7 separate regions of the Homo sapiens genome follow, and all the other regions are linked to region 1. Evidence: fine-mapped expression QTL. A gene starts in region 1. Each other region holds a variant in brackets. All regions are shown on one strand. Distances are between the middles of the regions.

Region 1 (4,067 bases):
AGGAAGGCATTATGAAGTTTTCAGATGTCATTAGCTATAACAAAGTTCAGAATTAATCATGACACCATGCAAAATGGGAAAAATTTGCAAGCAAGGAGAGGGTGGAGATGCCAGAACCCGTAAATTTATGCCAGCTGAGCACTGTGGGGGCACCTGGCAAATGGATTTACTATTTTGCCAACACCAGTAAAGTGTTACAAAATTGCAAACGGAATTATTTCTATGCAAACAATTGTTTTTAAAAAGGGTCCCTACATCGACTAATGCAATTCAGTTTTTTTCTGGGTAAGCACAAAGCCAGAAACTAAATGAAAAATATTAGAAATTATTTTTCTTGGAATCATGTTGAATATTAAAATTGAGATTTACTTTCCTCCCCAATTCCCTCTCTCTCCCATCAGTCTTTTCATGCACCAATGTCATTTTAGTTTTCGTGGTAAAAGAGGTGGTGAAAAAGGGGCAGGGGCATTTGAGAGAGTAGGCGAAGGGAGGCTGGGGATTCCAGAAAAGGAAAAGATGGGGAGTCGCTCAATTAAACTCTACCACCTTCATCTGTTAACAGGGATTCTTGCCTGTCTCGACCCACTTCCAGAGGCAATGCCATATTATTTGAGAAAGCTGGATATAAAATTTGAGCTCTGCTGTCCTTGTCCCAATCCCCCTCCCCAGGAGAAAAAATAAGCTGAACTGTACTCGTGACATTATGGGTTTTTCTGGAAAACAAGGATAAATAAGTTTTTTGAACATTTTTCTCCCCTGAAACTAAATCCGTAAGAGAGTTAAAAACCCGTGGAAAGCGAGTTAAGTCACTTTTCAAGTCTTTGTACTCAGGGGATTCTGTAAGACTCATGGAAGAATAATGGCGCAAACAGCAATATTTTAATGTTAGAACGGTCCTCTGAAAAGTCTGCCCGAAACGCTACAAAGATAATTGTGCAGTAACTTCTAAAAACTCTACTGGGACAGGAGGCAACAAAACTCCGGATCAGCGAGAGCTCTGTTTATCCGAGGGTGCTGAGCCTCAGGCCCCACGGAGATTCCCTTTTCGGCACTTGGAGGCCTGAACTCAGGTCTAACCTTTCGTGTGCGCGCTCTGATACTCAACCACCGTTCAGTCTCCGGAGGCTGTTACAACTGTCCCCATTCTACAGATGAAGTTGAGGCTACAGCTTAGTGTTCTTGGGGAGGGAGGGAGTTGGGGGGAGAGAGAGACGCTTTTCCTCATAACCTTAAACAAAAGTACTTAAACCTAAAGCAACTGAAAAATGATTTTCTTTCAACAACGGTGTTTCCTTTGGGGTCAAGTTCTTTGATCTCATCTACAAAACCAAGAAGCGGGACAAGTATTTTTCTGCAAATTAGAACGGGGCGTTCCCCTCCCCCATCACCCCAATTCCAGAGGACGTCAATCACAGTGGACGCAGCACCGCGAGCGGAAATGCGGAGAGCATCGGGGCTCCGCATGTGGGGCACAATGAAACAAGAGCAGCCCCGGCCAGAGGTCCAGTAAAGCGGAAAGACGGTCCCGCCCGCACACCCCTCCGGAAAACTGAAGCGTCTCCTCTGACCCCCAAGGTCAGAAAGATTTATTACTTCCTTCGAGAGGGCGCAGCCACAGACCCACTAGAGAGGGCGGGCAGGGTGTCGGAAGCCAGAGAACGGCGCTCCGCGTCCTCCCACCGCTCCAGGGCGCAGAGGTGTCCTCAGTGCCCGGAGAGGTTGGCAGTGTCGGCCCCGAGGGAAGCGTGGAGCGGACGGCCGACAGGGGATTTCTGCCCAAACTTCATCACCAACTCTTTCTGAGAGCAAAAACATGGGGCCGAGTCCGGCAGCTGCACGCAGAATCCAACTCTCTGGCAGCTCTCGGCACCGACGAGCTCCAGATCCCGCGTTCGCATCCCGGCGCTTTGCGCGCAGAGCTAAGCCTTCGGACCCGTGGACTGCAGCCCCCGCGCGTCGCGGTAAAGCGGGTCGCGTCTCCAGCCCCCGAGGCGCAGCGACGGTGGGAGCCGGCTCGGCGTTGGGGGCGGGGGCGGGGCCGGCGAAGGGGGAGGGCTGCGCGGCGGAGGGGAGGAGCCGCGGCGACAGACGGCGGCGCGCACCAACCGGGCGCCGGCTGGCAGGAGCCGCGCAGAGGCTGGTCCGAGCGCGTTGCGGGCGCCCGGCGTAAGGGGAGTCGGGTAGCAGCATCCTCCTGGGCGCCGCTTTCGCGCGGCGGCGGCGGCTGCGGCGGGGTCTTTCTTTGCTTAAATACCTCGTTGGCCAGAAGCGCTGGTACCGGGGGCGGGTTGGGTCGGGTCGGGCAGTGCTGCACACCTGGGTTTCCTTGCCTAGAGCTGTGTGTTCGGGGTCCTTTGGTCCAGTCGGAGGCTGCGGAGCGGCGGGGGTTGCCTGCGCTGTCCGCCCGGGCATCCTCCCGGTGATGGAAGCAGCCGCCGCCGCCGCTGCGGGGTCGCGCTGTGCCCCATCCACCGCTGCCAGAGAGGTGGGAAAATTCGCCGCACGGAGGCCGAAAGCGAGAGGGGCTGCGCCGCTATGCCGGGAGCTGAGTCCCATATAAGCCGCCCCCAGCCATCGCCCCCAGCCGGCTTCGTTCCCCTGAGCGAGACAGGAAGCTGCGGTCCCGAGAAAGCGGAGGAGACGTCGCTGGAGCCGGGAGGCGCCGGGTTCGGCGGAGCGCGGAGCGGGGCTCTGGGCCGCGTGAAAGTTTTTCTTCCCGAGCCGCAGGGCGCCCGCTGCCCGGAAACTGCCCAGGGATAAGTCGGCCGACTCCCCAGACCCCTCGAAGGTGCGGGGACCCCCAGCGGAAGCGAGAGGGAGCGAAATCGAGGAACGAGTGACAGCCGGACAGTCCGCCGGGCGGTGATCCGGGGCCGCTCCCGGGCGCGCCCTCGGCTCCAGGTGAGCGGAGGAACCGGGCAGAACCGAGGGTGGGCGTTACTTAGGAGGAGGAGGCTGGGAGGGAGATTGGGGCGCATCCGCTCACTCCGCTTCCCCTCGCAGGTCCTACCCGGAGCCGCTGCCATGGGAGAGCCAGCCTTGGGCGCTGGGGACCAGCCGCCGCGCCCGCCTCGGAGTCGCGGCCCGAGTCCCGGCGCCAGCAGCCAGCCCGCTGCGTCCCCTTCCCGGGCTGCAGGGCTGCCTCCGCCGCGCCGCCGGCCCGGATTGTGCCTGTGATGAGCCGCAGCCCGCAGCGAGCTCTGCCCCCGGGCGCGCTCCCTCGGCTGCTCCAGGCTGCGCCTGCAGCCGCGCCGCGTGCCCTGCTCCCGCAGTGGCCCCGGCGCCCAGGACGCCGCTGGCCCGCGTCCCCTCTCGGAATGAAGGTGTTCCGTAGGAAGGCGCTGGTGTTGTGCGCGGGCTATGCACTGCTGCTGGTGCTCACTATGCTCAACCTCCTGGACTACAAGTGGCACAAGGAGCCGCTGCAGCAGTGCAACCCCGATGGGCCGCTGGGTGCCGCAGCGGGGGCAGCCGGAGGCAGCTGGGGGCGCCCAGGGCCGCCTCCGGCCGGGCCGCCCCGTGCTCATGCCCGTTTGGACCTCCGCACTCCTTACCGCCCTCCCGCTGCCGCCGTCGGGGCGGCTCCTGCAGCCGCGGCAGGGATGGCGGGGGTTGCGGCCCCTCCAGGCAATGGCACTCGGGGCACCGGGGGCGTCGGGGACAAGCGGCAGCTGGTGTACGTGTTCACCACGTGGCGCTCTGGCTCGTCGTTCTTCGGCGAGCTATTCAACCAGAATCCCGAGGTGTTCTTTCTCTACGAGCCAGTGTGGCATGTATGGCAAAAACTGTATCCGGGGGACGCCGTTTCCCTGCAGGGGGCAGCGCGGGACATGCTGAGCGCTCTTTACCGCTGCGACCTCTCTGTCTTCCAGTTGTATAGCCCCGCGGGCAGCGGGGGGCGCAACCTCACCACGCTGGGCATCTTCGGCGCAGCCACCAACAAGGTGGTGTGCTCGTCACCACTCTGCCCCGCCTACCGCAAGGAGGTCGTGGGGTTGGTGGACGACCGCGTGTGCAAGAAGTGCCCGCCACAGCGCCTGGCGCGTTTCGAGGAGGAGTGCCGCAAG
Region 2 (4,067 bases), 110 kb after region 1:
AACAGCCAGTAAAAGTGCAGAAGGAAGCATGATGTAGAGGCACCTGCTTTACTAAGTATTAAAACACTAAGAGCCACCGTAATAAATCGATATGATATAGGCACAGGGATAGCTCTATAGATTAGAGCACAGATGGACAATTCAGAAACAGATCCCAAACTGTTATATTATAGTAATAAAACAGCACCAGACTGCCCATGACAAGAGTTCTCTGAGATATTCAGCCTTCTGCTTGAATAAAGGGAACCTGAATATCCAAAATCCTGATTTTACCTGGGATATTAATGGTTTCCTTATTTTTTTAAGCCCCAAAATATCTATAATATAACTTTATTACAGATCTCAAACTTATATGAAAATTCTCTATATTAAAATGTGCTGTTTCAATTCAGTAGAGGAAGAATGGTTTATTTAATAAATCATGTGAGTGCAACAGACTATTCATCTGGAGGAAAATTAAAAATGATTCATGTCTAGTATCATTTATAAAAATAAATTCCAAATAGATGAAAGGAATGAGACTTGTAGGGTCTGTTTAACCTGGTGGTCGTCATATCTTGAAAGTCAGCTTTGACTCCCGCGTCTCAAGTTATCCTGTCCCAAATCCTCACAGGCAGAAAGAAGGGAAGCTGAAGCTGGCAGGGCAACAAGTGTGGCCAGTCAGAACTGCTTTGCTGTGAGGAGCTTGGAAGTGAAGGGCTTCAACATGAAGGAGACAAAGAAACTGGATATTGAGTAGGCGACTGGCGGTGTCTGCTAAAGAAAGCCAGTTGCAGAGAGAGAGAAAGAAAGTCTCTATTGGTATATTTTGGGCATTGGCTGGGATCAATTGCTGTTACTACGAGACAGCATGGCTTACACGTGCTTCGATTTGCTTTGGCTCCTAGCCAGCCCTTTACTGTGGTACCTGCAGCTGCCCCTGGAAGGGCGGGAACACAAACTTCTATCTTAGGGACAGTGGGGAAAAAAAGTCCAAATATATTGTCTAGGAATCTCCCCAACTTTCTAAGTACAGCTCTTTGGCAGGAAAGAAAAACCATAATTACAGCTGCCTCTTCATACTTAACGTATTTTCAAAAAGGAGATGAAAACTAGAAAACGAAGCAGAAAGGCCAACTGCTTCCTTCACCTACTCTTTTTTTTATTATTTTTTATTTTTTTATTATTATACTTTAAGTTTTAGGGTACATGTGCACAATGTGAAGGTTAGTTACATACGTATACATGTGCCATGCTGGTGCGCTGCACCCACTAACTCGTCATCTAGCATTAGGTATATCTCCCAATGCTATCCCTGCCCCCTCCCCCCACCCCACAACAGTCCCCAGAGTGTGATGTTCCCCTTCCTGTGTTCATGTGTTCTCATTGTTCAATTCCCACCTATGAGTGAGAACATGCAGTGTTTGGTTTTTTGTCCTTGCGATAGTTTGCTGAGAATGATGGTTTCCAGTTTCATCCATGTCCCTACAAAGGACATGAACTCTTCATGTTGTGTGGCTGCATAGTATTCCATGGTGTATATGTGCCACATTTTCTTAATCCAGTCTATCATTGTTGGACATTTGGGTTGGTTCCAAGTCTTTGCTATTGTGAATAGTGCCGCAATAAACATACGTGTGCATGTGTCTTTATAGCAGCATGATTTATAGTCCTTTGGGTATATACCCAGTAATGGGATGGCTGGGTCAAATGGTATTTCTAGTTCTAGATCCCTGAGGAATCGCCACACTGACTTCCACAATGGTTGAACTAGTTTACAGTCCCACCAACAGTGTAAAAGTGTTCCGATTTCTCCACATCCTCTCCAGCGCCTGTTGTTTCCTGACTTTTTAATGATTGCCATTCTAACTGTCTTCACCTACTCTTCTGCCGCACAGCCATCCTCCGCACGCCCGCTGCTTCTCTCAGGTGACTCCTGGGCCTGACTGTCCCACAGGCCAGACACCGGAAGCACAGGGAATTGGA[A/C]GTATCTCAGGCTATCCCCGGCCTCAGCTTCTCCCTTCCCAGCACTCCCTCCCTGAGGGTCCTCCTCCACAGGCTGCTGGGAAATGAATCCGAACCCCAGCACCCGTCTCTGGTAACAGGGCTAAGGTCCCTTCACCTACTCTTAAGAGACCTTAGCCCTGTTACCAGAGACGGGTGCTGGGGTTCGGACTCATTTCCCAGCAGCCTGTGGAGGAGGACCCTCAGGGAGGGAGTGCTGGGAAGGGAGAAGCTGAGGCCGGGGATAGCCTGAGATACGTCCAATTCCCTGTGCTTCCGGTGTCTGGCCTGTGGGACAGTCAGGCCCAGGAGTCACCTGAGAGAAGCAGCGGGCGTGCGGAGGATGGCTGTGCGGCAGGGCGCAGGAGGCCTGTTCACTGCCCCTAGGGCCTGGTGCTGGCTGGGGATGCTGGGAGAAGAGCTGGCCTGAGCTGTGGCCCCCCGAGGGAGGAAGTGGCACTTTTCCAAGCTGGCTAGGGAGTTGGGGGACATTGAGCTCCCACCGCAAAGCATCAAGCATCGCTGCAGCCATGATACCCATCGGAAGGAGTAAAAGGTGCTGGGGGGAAGGGGCAGCCATAAGAACACCCTGTCTTAGAATCTAGATAACCCTGCCCCCAGCGAGAGAGACATTTAAAGGCGTGGTAAGTGAGGACAAAGACAAAGCATATCTAGACCCTTCAAGGCTGCTGTTTGGAGTTCTCTGACAGCCAGCTCTGAGTGGGGCTGTGTCCCTGGGTAGTGACAGAGGCATGGCACTAACAGCACAGCCCCATCTCTCTGGCTCCTGCCAACCACTCCCGTTGGCTGAGCTTCCCCAACATGACCTCCTCAGGGTGGCTGCCCCTCAGGAAGCGTGTTTGAAGGAAGAAGTGTGGCTTTGGGGTCAGACAGCCCTGGGCTTGAATCATAACTGGCTCACTCATTCATGAGCTACCTGACCTTGGGCAGGTGGCAAAGCACTTGAGGCTTAGTTTCCTTGTTGTTGATATAGAAATGACAAGCCCTCAGAGAGCTGTCAGAATGATTACACAAAATAATGAAATGGGCCAGGTGTGGTGGCTCAGGCCTGTAATCCCAGCACTTTGTGAGACGGAGGCAGGCAAATCGCTTGAGGTCAGGAGTTTGAGATCAACCTGTCCAATATGGCAAAACTCTGTCTCTACTAAAAATACAAAAATTAGCCAGGTGTGGTGGTGCATGCTTGTAATCCCAGCTACTTGGGAGGCTGAGGTGGGAGGATCACCTGAGCCTGGTAAGTGGAGCCTGCCGTGACTTGAGATGGCACCACTGCATTCCAGTCTGGGTGACAGAGTGAGACTCCATCTCAAAAAAAAAAAAAGAAAAAAAAGAAAAGAAAAGATAATGAAACAGCCCTGGGCACAGAGTTTGGCACAAAGTCGGCCTTGCATCCATGTGAATTTTCTTCATTCTCTGAGGAAGCAAGGGCAGCTCCCAGGAGCCCATGTGGTCCACTTCCCTTCAGTCAGGCTTACCTGGCCCAACCTCAGGCCAGTGGGTGAGTATGGCTTGGTGAGCTGTCTTTTAATTTACTCTTTCATTACACTGGTGTCTGCTACTTTAACTGTTTTACTGTTTATTCCTTTTCCCAGAATAGTGCCTGGCACATAGTAGGTGCTCAATCAGTATTGCTGAATGAATGAATTCATTAGTTTCTTTTATCCTTAGACTACTTTGAGTAAAACCCTAAAAAAATCCATAATTTTCACCCTGAACAGTTACTGTCACCTGGACAGTCATCCCCTTTTTTCAGTTTAAAGTTTTTCACAAAGAACTGCCACATTCTAAAGCCAGTGCCAGGCTTCAGAACTCACATCACCTTATATATGTATTATCACCTTATATATGTATTATCACCTTATATATGTATTATCACCTTATATATGTATTAATACGCATATAAAGACTGCATCAAAAAGATATATACTTAGATGTAAAATCAGACAAAAATTCTGTATTCTTTAGAAATGACTGGCTACTGGAAATTTACTTCATTGGCCACTTGTTGGTATTTCTTGGCAATCATTACAACTTGCTCTGGAGTTTTGGCAAGGTGAGCAAAT
Region 3 (4,067 bases), 42 kb after region 1:
TTCAGATAATTCTAAAAGATTGCAAAGACCTGAGGAGACTTTTAGAAAAATGTTTATAGACTGATTTGATTTGACAATCAAACTGCTTCTTGAGTTTCTGAAATGGTGAGACTTGTCCTTCCCTGCAAGACTCTTTTCATTTTTACAAGGTAGAGCTGAGAATGTATTCTCATAATTTAGCTGAAGGAAACAACAGACAGCCCTTTTTTGAAAAAGTCCGAGTTCTTTGTCCCTGGTTTCCCAACAGATTTGCTGAATTCTCCACTTAACTTTGCTTGTGGAAACAGAAATTCTTGACTGTGTCCTGGTACTAGGGGTCACCCACGGATCCCACGAACAGGATTTGGAAGCTCACCTTCTCATTGGCTGTGGAATCAGGAGGGTTTCTCTTCATAGAACCTGGATTTCATATCTATGTCACACACTCTGCCATTTGGCTTTTTAATTCCTTCTGAGTCGCCGGATGCTGCTGTCCGTCCTCACCCCTGTGTTTCTCTATAGGATACCTAACCTCTCCCCGGGGGACTTCGGTCTCTCACGACCGCCCCATGATTTCCTGCTGATGGTGTCCTTGGGAGGGAAACTGCTCTAAGGGACAAGCTGTTTTGCAGAATTACTTTAACCTCTCAGTCACTGTGTTACCCTCTCGGTGGGCCCCAGGCCTGTGGCTTTCCGGGCTCCCAGACATTCCTGTCCTCCAAGGGCTCTGCTTCTCAGCTGCATTTCCTGGGGTTCTTTGAGCTTCCAGTGTGGACCTCCCCGCCCACAGCTCAGCTCTATAACCTTACATCTTCTGGGAAGATTTGCTTTTTAATTATTCAGAACGACATCTTCAGGACTCCTTAGAAGCTGCCTTGTCTGACAGTGCTTCATGATTCACTCCTCAGTTTCTTTTGTAATTCCTGTGTGTCCAGTAGTTCATACACATTTCATATTTATGACAAAGCTATGGTTTTCTGGCAAATTTAGTTTACAAAGCAGCTCACACACACTGTCTCCACTGACCCTCATAAGACAGGTGTGAAGCAGGCTGAGCAGAGCTGTGGCTTAGGTGAGGGTCCAGATTCTAAATATAGTATATAAGGTGAAAATGGCACATGTCCAGAATTACCTTGGAAAATACTGAAATCATCTCTAAAATGTAGCATCCTTGGTTAGGGTATACAACTCTGTGTGGTCATATGTATATATAATTGTATATGTATATATATATATATATATTTTTTTTTTTGGAGACAGAGTTTCGCTCTTGTCACCCAGGCTGGAGTGCAGTGGCGTGATATTGGCTCACTGCAACCTCTACCTCTTGGATTCAAATGATTCTCCTGCCTCAGCTTCTCAAGTAGCTGGGATTACAGGTGCCCACCACCACCCCCAGCTAATTTTTGTATTTTTAGTAGAGATGGGGTTTCATCATATTGATCAGGCTGATCTTGATCTCCTGACCTTGAGTGATCCACCTGCCTTGGCCTCCCAAAGTGTTGGGATTACAGGCGTGAGCCACTGCACCCAGCCATATATTGTTAAATATAGCAGAGACTCAAAGTACTTATGTACTTTGATTATACCATTTTAATTGTTAAAATTATTATTCTTATTGCTTAACCCATGTAGTTGGAATTGTCTAAGAAGGGCATGATGTGCATCTTCTAGGTAACAACCCCTTTTTGAAGGAGGAACCTGGAGTGTGGATGGCTTAAGGGACCAGTGCACAGCTCTGCAATGTGGAGTGGAGCCTTGAACTCATGCCTTCTGACTCTGATCCTGGTATTCTTTTTTTTTCTTCTCTTGCTGCCTTACTGTGGCTGAAGGGGATTTAACTATTATTTTCAAACATTCCTTTTACTTAACCATTCATTGTCCATTTCCTTACTTTCCAAGTTTTATATAGGGAAATTTTCCCACTAAAATGCTGCCAATTTTTCAAAATAAGTCCAGTGTTAGACTTCTGTCCTGAATGCCTCTAAATAGTAAACTGTCTATGAGCTTTAGGAAATGTTGTGTTGGTGAAAACCCATCTCTACTAAAAATACAAAATATTAGTCGGGCGTGGTGGCA[T/C]GTGCCTGTAGTCCCAGCTACTCGGGAGGTTGAAGCCAGAGAATCGCTTGAACCTGGGAGGTGGAGGTTGCAGTGAGTAGAGATCGCGCCACTGCATTCCAGCCTGGAAGACAGAGCGAAACTCCATCTCAAAAAAAAAAAAAAAAAAAAAAAAAAAAGAAAAAGAAAAAAAAAGAAAGAAAAGGAAATGTGTTGTGGGGGAAAAGTCATTGTATTTGTCAAAATATAACTTTAGTTTTGCTTATGAACTATTTGGCAGTTTGAAAGCTTCTTGAAATTCATTCCCTTGGGTTTCAAAAATCCACCATTCTTCTGCTAATCTGTAGTATCACCTGGCTATCCAAATAGCTGGGGGCATAAACCCATCTGAACACTTGGGGACTGGGGCAATGAAGGGACTGTCCTCTTGTCTTTGGAAATCCTTTTCTGCATCTGTGCCTGAGAGAGCAGCAACTGTCTTCATTTCTGGGTGAACTGAGTCTGGATCTGGTGAGACTTAACCTAAAAGTTAAAGTACCTTGAACAGGGTAGGAGGGGCACAAGACTCACTGTTCAAATGAACATTCACTTTCCCATTCAGAAAAAGAATTTATTGAGCACCTACTGTGTACCCAGCACTGTGCTTGGTGATAGGGAAGACAGAAATTTAAAACCTGGCTTGGCTAACTTCAAAACAATATTGTTGAAAAGGGGAGAAAAAGTTTTGGGAGTTGACATAGGAATCAATTAGAAAATGATGCAAGTCGCTATAATGACCACCATCACCGTAGCTAAATGCAAAGTCCGAGTGGAACTGGAATTTAGAAAAATGAGACAGAGGAAGATGAGATATGTTAGGGAAGTCCTCCTGGGTCTTTGAAGGCTGAAGGCTATAGAGTATAATGTCTGAAAGGATGGCCTTGATATACAGTAAGACTTGAGTATGAATCACACGCCTCATTTTAGAAGTTGTGTGACATTTGTAAGTCACTTCATCTTTCTGAGCTTCAGTTTCTCAGTATCTAAAAGAGGGGAAAGACACTACAGGGTTGCTGTAAAGATTAAGTAGGAAAGCATGGATTGATGGAGGTGCCAAGTTAGTTCAATGGGAGAAAATATGGTCTTTTCAACAAATGGTGCTGTGTATTTTATTGTGTGTAAATTATTCCTAAATAAAAAAAGACAGCGTGGGAAAGTACACAGTACATGGTACCTCCTCATTAATAGTGGCTGTGGGTAATACAGGCATGAACAACAACACTAGGCATTTTAGTTTTGACCTCCTACCCCATTAAGCCAGTGGCTCTGTCAACCATCTCTTTTGCCTGTCAGGGTCCTATGGGACTCACACAGGACTCTGGCCAGATGCTGTGATGTTCTCATTCTCTTACCCCCAATGATGCACTTTGCCCAGACAGTCTTTCTGGATAATTGTTCAGGAATCAAATCTTTCTCTCTCATCTAGATATACATGCACATAATATGGATGTTCCTTCCTTCCTTCCTTCTCTCCCTCCCTTCTTCCTGTTTATCTATCATCTTTATCCTATCTCATTCCAAAGCCAGTTTAATGTGGCTTATAAAAATATGCCAGCCTTTAGACAAATTAGTATAGGAAACAAATATAAAACCAAAACTACAAAGAAAGAGACATCAGTTGGTCCTGAACCCTTGCTATAGGCAGGCAACGGATTTGGCTCTGAGCTTCCTTGCCATAGCAACAAAAAAAGGAAATGTGATTAGTTGCTAAACAGACCACAGAGCAGATTCGCTTTATCCCAAAGTAGCATCTTGAACTGGTATCTGTTATTCAGAGCTCCAGGTTTCCAGTTTGTTTGCCTGAGTGGTGGATTAGTGTAAGGAGAGAAGAAACTGGAGGTTTTTTTGTGTTTGGCTCAGTTTTCCTGGCAGGGACACACTAAGAGTTTCCTTCTGGAAGTGAATGGTGCTGGGGTTCTCCCTCCAGCAGAGACAGCATTATTTGTATTCTGAGCCTCTGTTGTCATCCGCTGTGTGGATTAGCTACCTCA
Region 4 (4,067 bases), 540 kb after region 1:
AGCCTCTGTGAGTACATTAGGGCAGTCAATACTCACACACTGATTATCTGTGTTCATCAAAACTATTCAATATCTTGATATTTAAAACAGTTAAGCAGAGTGTGAACAGCAATCATTAGGAAAATGATCCATTGAATTAATTGCCAAGGGGGAAAGAGGGAGGTTGAAAATGATATTGATGGCAAATGTCTAAGGCAGAATGGGTATTTTTAATTCTGTTTTTCCTTTCCTATTTCATGGGTGGTGAGGTTAGTAACTGTGTTGTACAAAACAGTGCTACGAGGAAATAAAAGCAAGACAGACAAGTTGAATGTGAAGGTTTTATAAGTAGGATTAAGAAGTTTGGAGCTTGTTCTTTCATAATAGAGAGTCATGAAGGGTTTTAATAAGAGAGATGACACAATCTGAACTTTGGAAATAAAGCTCAGGCAGAAGAGCAGAGGGCAGAATGGACACATGGCTGGAGGCTTTCCCAATAATTTCAGGAAGAGATGAGTTGTACCAGGACAGGAAGAGGCCCGGATTCATGCTCCCAAACTCTTACATGTTCACTGTCCTGGGTTCTAATAGACCAATGACCACTGTGCTTTGTACTTCACAAATATACCTCACTGGTTTTCATCTTCTCTGTGTGCCACAAGCCCTTAGCACAGTGATGCGACATAGTAAGCCTTTAATGAGTGAACGAATAAGAGAGAACATCAAGGAAGATATAGCAGAGGTGACAGCACCCCAGAGATATTTGAGATGGAAAATTGGTGGGTGTTGGTGCTTGAGAGGCAGCAAGGAATGACTCTGGATTTTGATCTATTGTACAACATGTGACTATATTTAGTAGCAATGTATTGTACACTTGAAAATTGCTGAGAGAGCAGATTTTAAGTGTTCTAAGCACAATGACAAAAGCATGCGAGGTAATACATATATTAATAAGCCTGATTTAGCTATTCTGCAAGATATGCATATTTCAAAAAATTATGCTGTGTACATAATATATACAGTTCTTGTCAATTAAAAAGTGTTTTTAAAGAAGTTACTGCAAAATCCAAAAAAAGAAAGAAAATGCCATATGAATTGACATGACAATTGGCCAGATCCCATTTTATCAGGCATAGAATCAATTTTATTATTCTAGCTGAATAGGTCCTATTAATCATGATAGGTAAAATGGCAGAGATCTGCTTTTTACTAGCATGCAGCTGTTAACATTTGCCACAACTTTTAGACGTTGCAGTTGGTGGGAGGGAACAAGCAAACACTTCTGCTAAGTAATCTCTTTCTCCTTTTTGGATAGAGTTAAGACACTGCATCTACCCAAAACAAAAAAGTTACAATGGGGTTTGGTTAGCAACATTTTCCTTTGGCTAGGATCTTGTGGAATAAAAGTAACATTTTTTTTTAACTAGAACATTCTATCATGGCCTCTCTATTGTTAACTTTAGACTCTGTAGCTGTTCATTTGTATCATCAAGCTCTGAAGATGACTTGCAGCCCATCTCCACTTCCATGGAGGTTTCCTAGGCCCAGGAAAAGGAAGGTAAGGCCCTTACCCCACCTCCCCACTTATGGAGCCCCTCTGCCCTATGGGGAAGACTCTACACCTGTCTAACGAAAGCTTTGAGCTTTTAAGAGGAAAGGCTTTTAATTGAATATCCAGTTTTGTTCATAACTGCTCTGACATTCCCACAATTCCTTTTGAACAAAGAACTGAACTCTGTTTCATAAACGATGTCCCACACAAAAGAGAAAACTGTTACTTTGCACATTCTTGTCTACCCTGTGAAGAAATGGAATAGTTTTGAAATAAAGCTAGACAGTGTGTCCTACAAGAGGGAGTATTTTGCTGGGAACACAAATGAGTCAAATAGGTGAGTCAGGAAATTAGCCACCCACTCTGCTGCTGAGCTTGGAGCTTTTAAAAAACTCATTTAATTAGCTCCCTGGCAGGGCTCAATCTTACACGCAATGTCCAAGACTCTCTGCAGCACCTCC[G/A]CAGGAGAGAATCTTTGGGACAGCTGTGGACATGCACATACCAGCTCTGCCCACACCTTGCAAGGCTGGTAAAGATAACCTAGGTCCAAGGCAGGACTAAAAGTCAATGCCCATGTAAATGAGAGTTCTTGGGACCACAAGAGGAAAACACTCTGGACATCGTGTGGATAGGAAGGGGAAAAGATGCAATCCGATTTCTTAAACCTTTGATTTTATCAGACAATTTGGTCATTTTGTCTTTAACTTACTTTAGTTCCACTCATCTTTTAGTGGCAGATTTTCATGCTTCACTTGTGGCTTGGAGTTCCTTCTCCTCTACATACCCTCTTCTTACATGATGTTGTAGCTAGAGAAAAATTCACTTTGTCTTTCAAATTGATAATAAAAGATACAAGCACATATGATCTTATGCTCAAGGAGATGAACATGCACATGTACACACACACACACACACACACACACACACAAACACACCCCTACCTCTAGGTAAGCATAATAGAGGAATGTGATAACTGAGAAATGCCACTGAATCCTTGCAGATCTCTGAGAAAATAATTTCAGCCATCAAATGGTAAGGGTCTTTGAGCGGAATGAGTGAGGAGCCAGTGGTGTGGACTGCACTCTGAGAAGCTTTTGATAAAGGATGAAGAGAGAAAAAGCCATAACTTATGAGGTCTAAGTGAGGCTTTCTCTTAGACATCTAATTTATAGGTTGACAAGAATAAGCCAGAGGAAAGAGAGGCTGAAGACAGAGAGAAAGGATGAGAAAACTGCTGGAGCAAGGTCTGGAGAAGGCAGAAGAAAACTGAAGGGCAGAAGGGGAATGTGTCTTTTCAGGAAAGTAAGATCATCTGCTGAGAGTCAGGAGAGAAACACATGAGTTAGAGGCTACAGGAAGGTTGAAAATGTGCAGAATATCTTGGAGGCAGGTAATGCAAGTTTCATGAAAAACTGTTAGGGTCAAACATAGGATAATTCTCAGTCTGTAAGAGAAAAACTGTAACACTAAAATGATATAATATTTTGATTTTTTCATCATACCAAGGGTCTTTTCCCCTACAACTCTATTATAGCATCAAAACTAATCCTTTTTCATCTCAAAGATGATAACCACACCTAGTGATAAAAATACAGATCATGACTACATGACTCCATGAGTATCTCAATGTGTTTACTCTTAGATGTTTGACAATTTTTTTTAAACTGCTGTCTTTTCAGCTGACCACTTTCTTGATGCCCTTTCAGAACTTCCAAGTCTTTAGGGTGATTTAGTGACAGCCCCTTCCCTAGAATCTCCATTAGCAGCTCTATGACCCCTATTTTCTAAGTGTTTTACAAGGAATTTAAATTTCAAATGATATTTTAATGTGGCAGCTCTCAGCAACCTAGCACAAGATCTGCCTAGGTCGAAGGACAACAACATACAATAGTTCCTACCCCTGTCCTCCTACGTTGTCATTCAGCCTTGTCAAAATGCTGGCTCTCCCTTGGAGAGTGCTCTCTATGGTTTTCTGTGCAAATCACTATGTATGACACTTGTCCATGACACACAGAGAATCAAAAACATCTGAAGATTTTGCAGCTGAATCGGTGTCAGGCCTGACAGGTGTAGAACCTTGGTATTCTCATAAACGAGGTAGCATTTTTCCATTTCCAAAAAATGATTATTGTGAAAATGTATTTTCTTTTTCTAAGAAGGAGGATGGAGGAGGAAATTCTCCTGTAACTTTTCCCACTTTCCTGAAAAATTGTATACGGTGAGATCTGAAGGAGAGGCTTTCAAAAAAGTTGTGGTATCTGGGTGCAGGCTGAAATATGGGAATTATTTTGAGAATTATTAAATTCTCAGTGAAGACTTAGCAGCAAAATTGATGCATGGATTGATTTTGCCAGTCAAGCTCTGCCAGTCATAATCCTAGAATACAAGTGAAAAGACTAACCCTTCTGAGTTACATGAGAGAAACAATGCCAGATCTACAAAGCTAATGACTAGTCATTCAATTTGTTTAGGTCATTCTAAATTTTAAGTTACACAAAACATCATGAGGAATTTAGCCCTAAAACTTTGCAATTTT
Region 5 (4,067 bases), 52 kb after region 1:
TGTATTGAAATAGTCACAGAGGCTGTATCAGTCAGTGACTTTGTGGGGTTGTTTGATGGGATCTAGTCTCTACCCCTGCTCAGAAACATTGCTGGCTCCCCGGTATCTATGTAATCCACTCTGCACCATGTAGCCTGGCAGGCAGGGCCTTCTGGGAACTGGCCCCACTGTCTTCTCACTGGTCTCCTCCTAATTTCTCCATGCTGCCCCAGACGTCAATGTATCCAGCTCTTCTGGAGTCCATGTGCTCTCTGGAACATGCAGCTCACTCTCCCCATCTATTACCATCATGCCTTTCTCCCCAGTGCCACCTTAGAAGAGTCTACTCACTGGGCTGGGTTCTGAGGCCATCTCCTACCATCTTCTGAGGCTATCTTCCTTGAGCCTCCCAACTGATTTTTTTCCTCCCTTAATATCCTTAATGCAGAAACCAGCCCCTGTCTTGATAAGATGACATTACATATCAGGAGTTGGAAAAAGAGAGGTGGAATTTAGCAATACGACAGCTCAGGAAGGTTTTACTGGACAAACTCTGGGACTTCTTTCAAATATATGTTATCAACAACCCCTTCACCTATTTTTTATTTTTAGGTCTAACGTTCACCTTTCCCTCTCATATTGAATCTCATGAGATCTTCCCTGAGAGTTGTGAGGGCCTCCCTGCTGCTGACCCACGAGGTCCTCCCTCACAAGTCTCGTGTGTTCAGGAACTGGCTGATGAACGCTTGCCTCCTTCTTCCTGCCCCGCAGACCTTCATAAACCACAAGGCTTTTTAAAAAAATTCTGATGCCTGTAGGTTTAAGCTTTACACCATCCTATAGCTTTGTCTGTGTACAATTCTAGCATACTGCCAGCCTTAGAATTTTCGGTCAGGTCCCCCTATAGATTGTATACTTCTTGGCAGTTCCTTCCCTTGTTCATTGGGTTCACAGATTCTACTCCATGCAGAGTACTTTGTGCTTTGTAGGTGCTTAATAAACGTGGTGAGTGACAACCCATGATATCTGAACTTACTGAGAAAACATTCCAGAGGGAGGTAAATGAGGATGAAAGGAGGCTGTTGGCAGAGGTGAGGAACTAGGGGCTCTGCAGACCAGCTTCCATGATGCCGCCATGTGGCCTGAGATTGGCCTGGAATCAGCTGCACTATCCCTCTTCACATAAGGCTACAGACTTTGGGGAAAGAGAATCCTTCTCCCTGCTTTACCTCTATACAAGTTCAGGCAGCTGTGTATGTGTGTGTGTATGTGTGTGTGTGTGTAATATTGGAACAGGCAGCACAGATGAGGGCTTGGCAGTGAGAGAAACTGTAGCTTTGACCTCTTACTACAAAGTGTGATGAAGAAGGCTTGAATTTTCAAAGAATTCAACTGTGTCTAATACCAGGTCTGTGGTATAACGTTCTTCCTTGGCTGGGTGCCAAAATGTAACATAAATGCTACACCCAGAGCAAAGGGGTAAAAGAGACCCACTAGTGTTTCCAGGGTTAAATTCTCCCTCCTTCACAGAGCCTTCCAGATTCACACAGTCCACTCAAGTCTCTCCTTTGTAGAAGATCCTACAGCATTTAATACTGGATGCTGCTCAGTTTAGCCCTCAATGATAGTGTCTTGCTATTTTTGGTTAGTTTCTTTAAAAATATAACTTCTGTCTTCCATTTACTTAAATCTCTTCCACGGCTTCTTTGCTTCTTGTTACATGAAGCAGTGCTGAACACAGAGGAGGAACTCAGTAACTGTTAATTGTTTTGCTCTCTAATTAGGCCCACGATAGAGTAGATACTATTGGGTGCTGGTTTTTAGGGGTGTAGGAAAGGAATCTGGGGAGTCATCTTCAAAGATCAGATGCACAAATCTTAACAAGCTGCCTCTCTCTAGTGGCCTCAGGGACTTGAAGCAAGATCAACTGACTTAAAGAAATAAACCACAAGTAGTTAAGAAACACAAAAGTTCAAATTGCATCCGGTGTAGCTCTGTGAGAAAATTTCTGCAGCAGAAGGAAGTCTGTTATTCTTGACCTGAACTTTAGTATTCTGCAGTAA[T/C]GTGGGGCTGCAAAAATGCTCCTAATCTCTGACAAAGTTAGGTTCTTATCCATATATCATAAGTGAAATGAGAGGAATTGACTGATAACAGAGAAAAAATTTCCCACTTGGCACATACAGACAGTGTATGTATATGTGTATATATACATAGATACTTAAATCAAAGTAATTGGTTAATGTAATGGAAATTTAATCTCAGTTTTAAGTGGTGTTTCTTCTTTATTTGATGTGCATTATTTTAAAAACACAGCAGAGACATAGCCTTTAACCACCTCCCCCATGCCTCTGACATTATTCATACTGAAGTTTTCAAGTAGCAGACTTGGAAAGTGCTTTTTAACTACAGCTCATATCATTAGTGTTTCTGCTGTATAAGCAGAAAAAATTGGGATGCAGCTTAGCAAAAGGCTTCAGGACAACATAAAATACAAAGGGTAATAGATCTGTTTCTCAAACAGTTTTCCTGTGTAATGCGCATCCTAATGATTTCTTTTTAATTAAAATATTTTCACAAGTCTCAGAATGAGTAACCTAAGACTATTTTGTTGGGATAATCTGTATTTCCTGAGATGTGTTAACTTCAGGGTCACTGGTCTTTATTCAGTTCTTGCTCTGCCAGGCCACAGGCTGCCTCATTCTCTCCTTTGCCCTCACAGCTTGGTATCAGCTCCTAATTTTGCATCTGGGCTCTAAACTGGACTTTCCAGCTCCCTGATGGACATTTCAGAAATGTTCTATTGATGTTTCTAACGCAACAAGCCTCATGATATTATCCTTGTGTTAACATCATTGTGACATCCTCCACACACCCAAGTCAACTTGGACTTATTTTTCTGTCTCCTACAAGCAATGGCTGCTAAGTCCTGTTGATTCTGGCTTTGAAATGTCTAGAGAATACCCTCTCATGTAGTCACTTCTATTTTTGTTGCCCTAGTTCAGGCCGTACTCTCTCTTGCTTGCCTGGACCATGACAAGTAGCTGTCTAGTTGGTCTCATGGGCTGCTATCGATTTCCTCTCAAGAGTACCCTTGAAGTTGCCCCAGAGTGCTCTTCCTAAAGAATGACTTGGTGATGTCCCTTTCCTACTGAAAAAACTTGTGGTAAGTCCCAACTGCCTACTGAATCTGTTTCCAACTTTACTCTTCAGCCTCATTTTCTGCAACTCCCTGTCATCTCCCCATGCTGAACCCCAAGAGACAACTCACGATTGCTCGATGAGATGTCCAATTTCATTCCTTTGTGCTGTTGCTTGGGTTGTTTAATGCCTAGAAACTTTAGCAAGACAACATGCAAATATTCTGCAGCTTCTCTGTGCCCCCTCACACCTGCCTGCTCCAAGCGTCATTCTTCCTTTGCAGTTAAAAAAAAATCCGTTTTGGCAGGCTTTATGCAGAATTTGTTTACATTTCTATCTCTCTTACACATGAAACTTGAACTGCTAGACAACAGAGATAATGCAATTTATATCTTTGTTTCTTTAAAGACTCAAGTTGGTGATAGATGCTTATTAAGTGCCCAGTGAATTCTTGTTGAATAAATGAATTGTTGCCTTCTTTGTGAATCTTTATCCAGTTCTCTGAAGCAAACATTATTTTGTATTTATCTTTAAGTTTTTTCTCTTTGTATTTGGTTTCCAGCAGATTTCCATGATGTGTGTTGGCACGTTTTTCTTTCTGTTTATCTTCATGGGGATTGAAGGGCTTCTTGAATCTGTGGCTTGACGTTTTTTTGTCAGCTTTGAAAAATTCTTGGTCATTATCACATATTGCTTTGCCTCCTGTCTTTCCCTCCTCTTTTGGACTCTAATTCCATATATGTTAAATTTTTCTACTAGGTGCCATAGGTCTCCTATATTTTTTTCTATCTTTTTTCTCTGTGCTTCATTCTGAGTAATTTCCATTGTTTTATCTTCCAAATTGCTAGTCCCTTTTCCAGCTGTGTCTAATCTTCTGTTAAGTCTATTTATTGAGTTCTTAGTTTGTAATATCAGTTTAGATTTTTCATTTGATTTCTTTTTTGTAGATT
Region 6 (4,067 bases), 57 kb after region 1:
AACCAATCCAATTCACATAGTTCAAGAGACTGCAAAGAAGAGGCTCCTTAAGGGGTGTGGACAGGATTAAGAGAACGAGCAGGGTTGCTGAGGCACCCAGAGACTAGCAACAGTGGCAGTCATTACCACCCCAGGCCTGAAGGGATGAAGAACATTGCAAAGTGCTTTACTCCAGTCTGGTGGGAGCTGAAGTCAGGGAGAGATGTAGTCGCTACCAGAAAACATGCTGCAGGGCAGGGTGGGAGCAGGAAGGCAACATCTTCTCTTCTTTTTCCTCCTGCCTCACCTTGAGGGGTCGGTCTTGGCCAAACCCAACCAAGAGCCAGCTGGCAGTGGAGCCAGGTTGATGTGGTCCAGTGGAGGCAGTCTCCAAGGCTGCACAGAGAGGGGCAAGAATGGGCCTGGGGAGAGGCACAAACCAACCACACCCTCAGGTGCATTTTTGAGATGACAAGCAAGAATGAATTTGGAAAGTTTATAGGCTTCTTTTGTAGCTTCAGCCTTACTAGGACTTACATGATATAAAGTGCCTTTCCTACGTCGAGAATAGGGGGTCTGAAGGGTTTTCAGTCATACATTATGTCTTTAAGGACAGAAATTTTTTTTGAGGAAACTTGCAATTAGCTTGGGAGACTATGAGGACATAAGAATATGTGGAGTTTTGAAGGAAAGTTTTAGGGCAGAGTCTGGCATTTGTGCTAGTAAGAGGAAGAGACCCAGCGAGAGACTGGGGACAAAGCTTTAAGTCAGAGAGAGGTCAGAGAAGAAGGTGCCTGCAGTGGAACATGAAATCCTCAGTGTAAATTCACCAATACCCAAAAAGAGTCCTTTAAATCTGGCCATACACTGAAAATCTGTCTGCTAACAAAGGGTTCATGATATCCAAGCAAATATGGTATATGACCCAGAAATAGCTATTTTTTCAATTCAGCAATTTAAAATAGCAAAATCTTGAAATTTTATTGCCCAGGATATACAAAAGTACTCATACACACTTGTCTGCATACCCACCAACACAAAATGTCAATGTGGACACACACTCCCGCTTGGGCCTCCTCTCTCTCTCCGGCTCCATTTTCTCCGCCGCCGGGGGCCGGGGTCTCCTGTGGGGGGCCCAGCCGGTATCCCAGGTCTCCCTTCAGTGCCGGGGTGAACCCCCGGGGGAGCCGAGAGCCGGGGGCAGACGGGCGGGGGTTGGGGCGGAGGGAGCAGCGGCCCCAGCGAGTTTGTGGGGAGAAGTAACCAAGCGGGGGGAGGGGCTGAGCAGGGAGGGGGCCTCAGGGCCCCCCCCCAGCTATGGACTAACGGCTACTGGGGCCGCCTCCTCCAGGCGGGGCCCGGGGGGGGCCTGGGATTGGTGAGTGGGGAGCCTGGGGGCCCTGGCGAGCCTCCTGGTGGCGGAGACCCCGGTGGGGGTAGCGGGGGGTTCCCGGGAGGCCGAGGGAAGCAAGACATCGGGGACATTCTGCAGCAGATAATGACCATCACCGACCAGAGCCTGGACGAGGCCCAGGCCAAGAAACACGCCCTAAACTGCCACCGAATGAAGCCTGCTCTCTTTAGCGTCCTGTGTGAAATCAAGGAGAAAACCGGCCTCAGCATTCGGAGCTCCCAGGAGGAGGAGCCGGTGGACCCACAGCTGATGCGCTTGGACAACATGCTTCTGGCAGAG[G/A]GTGTGGCTGGGCCCGAGAAAGGGGGCGGCTCAGCAGCAGCAGCTGCAGCCGCTGCAGCCTCTGGTGGTGGCGTGTCCCCTGACAACTCCATCGAACACTCGGACTATCGCAGCAAACTTGCCCAGATCCGTCACATATACCACTCGGAACTGGAGAAGTATGAGCAGGCATGTAATGAGTTCACGACCCATGTCATGAACCTGCTGAGGGAGCAGAGCCGCACCAGGCCCGTGGCCCCCAAAGAGATGGAACGCATGGTGAGCATCATCCATCGAAAGTTCAGCGCCATCCAGATGCAGCTGAAGCAGAGCACCTGCGAGGCTATGATGATGCTGCGCTCCCGTTTCCTGGATGCCAGACGAAAGCGCCGTAACTTCAGCAGACAGGCCACTGAGGTCCTAAATGAGTATTTCTACTCCCACCTGAGTAACCCATATCCTAGTGAGGAGGCCAAGGAGGAGCTTGCCAAGAAGTGTGGCATCACCGTGTCTCAGGTCTCCAACCGGTTTGGCAACAAGAAGATTCGCTATAAGAAAAACATCGGAAAGTTCCAAGAGGAGGCAAACATCTATGCTGTCAAGACAGCCGTGTCAGTCACCCAGGGGGGCCACAGCAGCACCAGCTCCCCGACACCCCCTTCCTCTGCAGGCTCTGGCGGCTCTTTCAATATCTCAGGATCTGGAGACATGTTTCTGGGGATGCCTGGGCTCAACGGAGATTCCTATTCTGCTTCCCAGGTGGCATCACTCCGACGCTCGATGGGGCCAGGGGGCTATGGGGATAACCTCGGGGGAGGCCAGATGTACAGCCCACGGGAAATGAGGGCAAATGGCAGCTGGCAAGAGGCTGTGACCCCCTCTTCAGTGACATCCCCAACGGAGGGACCAGGGAGTGTTCACTCTGATACCTCCAACTGATCTTGCCCCTCAGGGTCACAGGGGTGGGGGCTCTCACAAGGCGACTCTTGAAGAGGACGCAGGCTTCCAGAGGACAAACCCCAATACAGGAGAAGCACAAGACAGAGAAGGGCCAATGGGGTCATCCGCTCCCTAATGAGACTGTCTGTGCTGGGGGTGCTAATTACATGGCAGGAAGAATGGGGCCCCTAAGGGGAGTGTGGGGTCTGTCTCTCCCTTTTTTCCAACTTTTTCCTCTCTCGCTTTCTTTCTTACACAGAAACATGCACATACCCAGAAACCTATTTTCTCAGACCCCTTTTTCTCCTCTGTCTTTCTCTCTCCCTCTCCCACACCTCACACACACATACTCCCACTTGCAACTATTCTGTTTCTCTCCTGGGCTCCCCCACTTTCCCTTCCCCACCCCACTTGTAGGCTCTGGAATCTGGAGACGCCAGCCCTGCCCAATCAGAGATGCCAAAAATGGGGACATGACTTCTGGACAGAGGACATGGGACACGCCCCCATGCATCCCCACCCCTGCCCCTCCAGACAGCTTACTTACCTCATACGCAGCTCATCTTAAACCAATAGAATCGCTTGGTGGACGAGAGTGTCTGACTCAGATATCTACCTCGGAGGGAGTTTCTGCTACTTTAGGGAATTATTGACTGGGCTTTGGGGTTGAACTTTTTTTTTTTTTTTTTTTTAAAGAAAGAAAAAGAAACCCTGGGATCCATCTGTTTTTGTTGTTGTTGTTGTTTTTGTTGTTGTTGTTGTTGGTGGTGGTGGTTCTTAATTTTTAATTTAGTTTGGGGAAGTAGCTTGTTTTTTTTTTTTAAATAAATATGTTGATTTCTTGTCTTTTTTTTATTTCTTACTTTCCCATATTAGGGGTGATAGCCAAAGGGGTTCTGGTAAGAGAAAGGGGGACAAACAGAACTGGTAAAGAGGCCCCCCTGGCTCCAGGCCTGTCCATCAGGAAGTAAATTTTACAGGGCACCAAGCTTTGCCCCCTAAAATCCATTAGGTGTTCTTTGTTCATGCAGGCAGGTTTCTGCCGCATTTGATGTGGAGGCAGTGAAGGGCTTGCCCTGCTGGCCTCTCATCCCCCTTCTTCCCACAACCCTTGGGCAGGGCTGGACTCAGTAATTTTGAGGAAATTGAAGATGCCATCTTCCCCTGTGAGTGACATGTCTTTAATTTTTTAAAAAACTCTATTTGAAAATTGGAGGGGGAAGAATGGGAAGGGAGTTATTGCCAAATATGTTAATTATGGGTTGGGGTGCTTGTATATGTATCTTCCTCAATTTCCGCATAAATGAGGTATCTTTTTGTCACACCAAAATCAAGGGGTAGGGAGAGGGAGGAGGTTGCAAAAAGCCAGATGTGGGGGAAAAGTAACATCAACACTGTCCCATCCTCAGCCCTGAACCCTACCATCTGATCCCCTCAGACATTCTCAGGATTTTACAAGACTGTCAGAGTGGGGAAC
Region 7 (4,067 bases), 36 kb after region 1:
TATGTCAATTTTTTTCTAGAATACATTTTTCTAAAAATTGAGTTTTTTCTAGAATGCGATTACTGAATCAAATATAATACATGTTTATAGTTTTGATAGATGTCATCCAACAGCTTTCCAAAAAGTCTTCACCAATTTACAATCCCTCTAACAGAATGGCCTAGAGTTCAGTCCTGCAGCCCTTTCAATGACTTTATAGGCATTTAACATTTCTGCTTAAAATTGGCAAAGTGGTTTTGATTTCCTGCAACAGAACTCTGCTCAAGATACCGTGCTATGATCTTATGATTCCTTTGCTTAAAACACTTCTGTGACTACCAAACACAGATCAAACTAAAGCATTATATGCTTACCTTGAGCTCCATCTTTACTTAAGGATCCACCACAGCTGCTCTTGCCTCTGCCATCAAGAATGACTCAGCCGCCTGCTGGGTATGAGGGCTCACGCCTGTAATCCCAGCACTTTGGGAGGTTGAGGCAGGCGAATCACTTGAGCCCAGGAGTTCAAGACCAGCCTGGGCAACATGGTGAAACCCTGTCTCTACAAAAATACAAAAATTAGCCAGGCATGGTGGCACATGCTTATAGTCCCAGCTAGTTAGGAGGCCGAGGTAGGAGGATTGCTTGAGCCTGGGAGGTCGAGGTTGCAGTGAGCTATGACGGTGCTGCAGCTCTCCAGCCTGGGTGATGGAGTGAGACCCGGTTTAAAAAAAAAGAGAAAAGAATCCCTCAGCCTGCCTTTCAGGTTTTCCAGAATTTGGCTCCATTCCCCGTTAGTCAGTATGGTTCCCCTGGTTCCTCACATCTATTCCATGCTCCAAATGAATGTGTCTCCCACTGATCTGCTGTATCTGCAATGTGGAACTATCTGGTACCCACCCAGATATACTTGTATCTTCAGGTCTCTGCCTCTTCCTGTCCTAGGCTCAATTGCCTCTCTCAGCCCCAAACTTTTCCTTTTTTTCTTTTTTCCTCTTTTTTTTTTTTTTTTTTGAGATGGGGTCTCGCTCTGTTGCCCAGGCTGGAGTACAGTGGATCACTGTAGCCTCTGCCTTCTGGGTTCAAGTGATTCTCCTGCCTCAGCCTCCTGAGTAGCTGGGATTACAGGTGTCCACCACCAGGCCTGGCTAATTTTTTGTATTTTTTAGTAGAGACGGGGTTTCACCATGTTGGCTAGGCTGGTCTCGAATGCCTGACCTCAGGTGATCCACTCACCTTGGCCTCCCAAAGTGTTGGGATTACAGGTGTGAGCCACCGCACCCGACCACCCCCAACATTTTCTTATCTGTGCACACCAAGCTCAGTACAGCCCCACTCCTTTGAAGGCTGCCCCGGGGATGCCAGCTCACATTTCTCTACTTTTGTGTGTGCTGTGCTCTGCTGCACACTGTCCCACTCGCTACTGGATCTTAGCACTTGCTTGTAATAGAATGTAAAGCTATTATTTGATAATTATTTAACATATGTGTACATTTTGTCCCAATTTAGAATGTAAGGCCCTTATGTGAAAGGTACCATATCTCGTTTTCCCTTTGTAGTCTTAAATGTTTAAAACAAGAGAAAAGAAAGGATATTTATTAAATACCTGCCATGGATTAAGTGCTTTTTTAACCATGACCTTATTTAATATTCACAACAATCCTGGAAAGATATTTTCATATTTCAGAGATATTAAACAACTTTGCCCTGAGAAATCCCCAAAGCTGAAATTCAGAATTGACTCAGTCCAGTGCCATAGTGCTTCTTTAATGTGATGTCTGGCCAGTTGCCCTCTAGGACTTTATATACCAGAGTGGCAGAGGTGGTGGACACTTACTATGGGTAATTAACTAATGAAAAGTGAAAGTATGCCTTATTTGCCTAGAAAGATATTTCAGGACTCCCAATGTATTTACTCTGTATGCTTTTATTTTCCTTCAGATATTAAAAAACTTATTTTGAGATCATTTATGATTTACAGAGGAGTTACAAAAATAGTGCGGGGTTCCCATATACTCTTTACCAAGCTTCCTCTAGCATTAAAATCTTAAATAACTACAGTATAATTATGAAAACTAAGAGATGAACACTGGTATAATACTATTAACTAAACTATAGGCTTTATTAGAATTTTCCCAGTTTTTGTTTTTTTTACTAAGTGTCTATTTCTATTTCAAAATCCAATGCATCATACTCAGTCACTCTCACCACTTCTATTTAACACAGGACTGGAAGTCCTACAGCAATTAGGCAAGCTAGAACAACTAGGCAAGAAAAAGAAATGAAAGGCATTCAAATTGGAAAGGAAGAAGTAAAATTATCTCTGTTCACAGATGACGTAAACTTACAGGTAGAAAATTCTAAAGATTGCACAAGTAAACTGTTAAGTAATAAATGAAT[C/T]GTGCAAACTTGCAGGTTACAAAATCACCACACCAAGAAAACAGCTGCATTTTTATAGACTAGCAATGAACGATCTGAAAGGACCGTTTACATTAACATCAAAGAGAATAAAATAGTAGGAATACACTTAACCAAGAGGGTAAAAGATTTGAACACTAAAAACTACAAAACATTGCTGAAAGAAATCAAAGAAGATGTAAATAAATGGAAAGATATCCCATGTTAATTAATTGGAAGACTTAATATTGTTAAGATGCCCATACTACCCAAAGTGATCTATGCATTCAAAACAATCCCTATCAAAATCTCAATGGCACTTTCTTTACAGAAATAAAAAAAATTCCAAAATTTATATAGAACCACAAAAGACCATGAGTAGCGAAGTCAATCTTGAAAAAGAACAATAAAGCTGGAGGTATCAGCTTTTGGAAATATTTCCTGATACTTTAAAATCAGGAAATACTCCTTATGCCACGCACAAAATTTTGAAATCATGAAATACTTCTTACACCCTGCACAAAAGTTAACTCAAAATGGATTGAAGACTTAAACATAAGAGCTAAAACTATAAAACTCTTAGAAGAAAACACACGAGAAAAGCTTAGTGACTGGATTTAGCAATGATTTCTTGGATATTATGCCAAAAAATAGATAAATTGGATTTCATCAAAATTAATTTTTTGTGCATCAAAGGATACTATCTAGAAGATAAAGGCAACCTACAAAATGGGAGAAAACTTTTGTAAATCATATACTGGTAAGAGATTAATATCCAGGATATTTAAAGAACTCCAAAAACTTAGTAAAAACCACCACAACAAAGCAGTTCAATTAAACATGAGCAAATGACTTGATACTGATATTTCTTCAAGGGAGATATACAAATGGCCAAGAAGTACATGAAAAAACACTCAACATCAGAAATCATTAGGGAAATGCAAATTGAAACCTCAATGAGGTACCACATCACGCCTCTTAGGATGGCTATTATCCTCAAAACAGAAAACAAGTGTTGGTGAGAATATGGAGAAATTAGAACCCTTGCGTATTGCCTTAGGGAGTATAAAATGGTGCAGTCACTGTGGAAGACAATATGGCAGTCCCTAAAAAAAGTGAAATGTAAAACTACCAGATGATCCAGCAATTCCACTTTTATGTATATACCCCAAAGAATCAAAAGCAGAGACTTGGTCAGACATTTGTACTGTAAAGTCCATAGCAACATTATTCACAATAGCCAAAAGGTGGTGGAAGAAGCTCAAATGCCTATTAATGGATGAATGGATAAACAAAATGTGGCATATGCATACAATGGAATATTATACAACCTTAAGGAATGAAGTTTTTATGCATGCTGCAACATGGATGAACCTTGAAAACATTATGCAAAGTGAAATAAGCCAGACACAAAAGGATAAATGTTACGTGATCCCACTTATATGAAGTATCTAGAATAGTCAAGTTCATAGAGGAATGAAAGTAGACTGGTGGTTACTAGGAGCTGGATGGAGGGGACAATGGGGAGTTATTGTTCAAAGGGCATGAACATTTCAGTTCAGAAGGATAGAAAAATTCTGGAGGTAGATGGTGATGGTTGCATAACGATGTGAATGTACTTAATATCATTGCATTGTACACCTAAAAAGGATTAAGATGGTAAGTTTTATGTTATGTATATTTTGCCAGAA

The links. PIP is the estimated chance that this variant, and not a neighbour inherited with it, causes the effect.
Region 2: its variant is fine-mapped to the expression of CHST2 in whole blood (TOPMed, PIP above 0.99).
Region 3: its variant is fine-mapped to the expression of CHST2 in whole blood (TOPMed, PIP above 0.99).
Region 4: its variant is fine-mapped to the expression of CHST2 in tibial nerve (GTEx, PIP above 0.99).
Region 5: its variant is fine-mapped to the expression of CHST2 in whole blood (TOPMed, PIP above 0.99).
Region 6: its variant is fine-mapped to the expression of CHST2 in whole blood (TOPMed, PIP above 0.99).
Region 7: its variant is fine-mapped to the expression of CHST2 in whole blood (TOPMed, PIP above 0.99).

Annotation. Positions count from the first base shown.
Region 1 is chr3:143,117,641-143,121,707 of GRCh38, forward strand. CHST2 (carbohydrate sulfotransferase 2) reads left to right here and starts at 2,131. Exons shown (of 2, transcript NM_004267.5): 1 at 2,131-2,901; 2 at 3,004-4,067. The coding sequence starts at 3,177. RefSeq lists enhancers at 1,187-1,688, 1,364-1,493, 1,689-2,188, 2,474-2,523, 2,847-3,488 and silencers at 1,954-2,243, 2,734-2,783, 2,814-2,863, 2,914-2,993, 3,054-3,253 and 1 more.
Region 2 is chr3:143,226,220-143,230,286 of GRCh38, forward strand. No RefSeq gene overlaps it. Among named protein-coding and RNA genes, the nearest start is that of CHST2, 110 kb to the left of the region's middle. RefSeq lists an enhancer at 2,003-2,503. The variant A/C (reference allele first, on the strand shown) is at 1,966.
Region 3 is chr3:143,159,982-143,164,048 of GRCh38, forward strand. No RefSeq gene overlaps it. Among named protein-coding and RNA genes, the nearest start is that of CHST2, 42 kb to the left of the region's middle. The variant T/C (reference allele first, on the strand shown) is at 2,059.
Region 4 is chr3:143,653,254-143,657,320 of GRCh38, forward strand. The region is part of intron 5 of SLC9A9 (solute carrier family 9 member A9); the gene reads right to left. LOC102724120 (a long non-coding RNA gene) reads left to right here. Exons shown (of 3, transcript XR_001740940.2): 2 at 1,443-1,537. Among named protein-coding and RNA genes, the nearest start is that of SLC9A9, 190 kb to the right of the region's middle. The variant G/A (reference allele first, on the strand shown) is at 1,993.
Region 5 is chr3:143,169,508-143,173,574 of GRCh38, forward strand. No RefSeq gene overlaps it. Among named protein-coding and RNA genes, the nearest start is that of CHST2, 52 kb to the left of the region's middle. RefSeq lists an enhancer at 1,670-1,809. The variant T/C (reference allele first, on the strand shown) is at 2,043.
Region 6 is chr3:143,175,030-143,179,096 of GRCh38, forward strand. It overlaps the pseudogene PBX2P1. Among named protein-coding and RNA genes, the nearest start is that of CHST2, 57 kb to the left of the region's middle. The variant G/A (reference allele first, on the strand shown) is at 1,673.
Region 7 is chr3:143,153,611-143,157,677 of GRCh38, forward strand. No RefSeq gene overlaps it. Among named protein-coding and RNA genes, the nearest start is that of CHST2, 36 kb to the left of the region's middle. The variant C/T (reference allele first, on the strand shown) is at 2,380.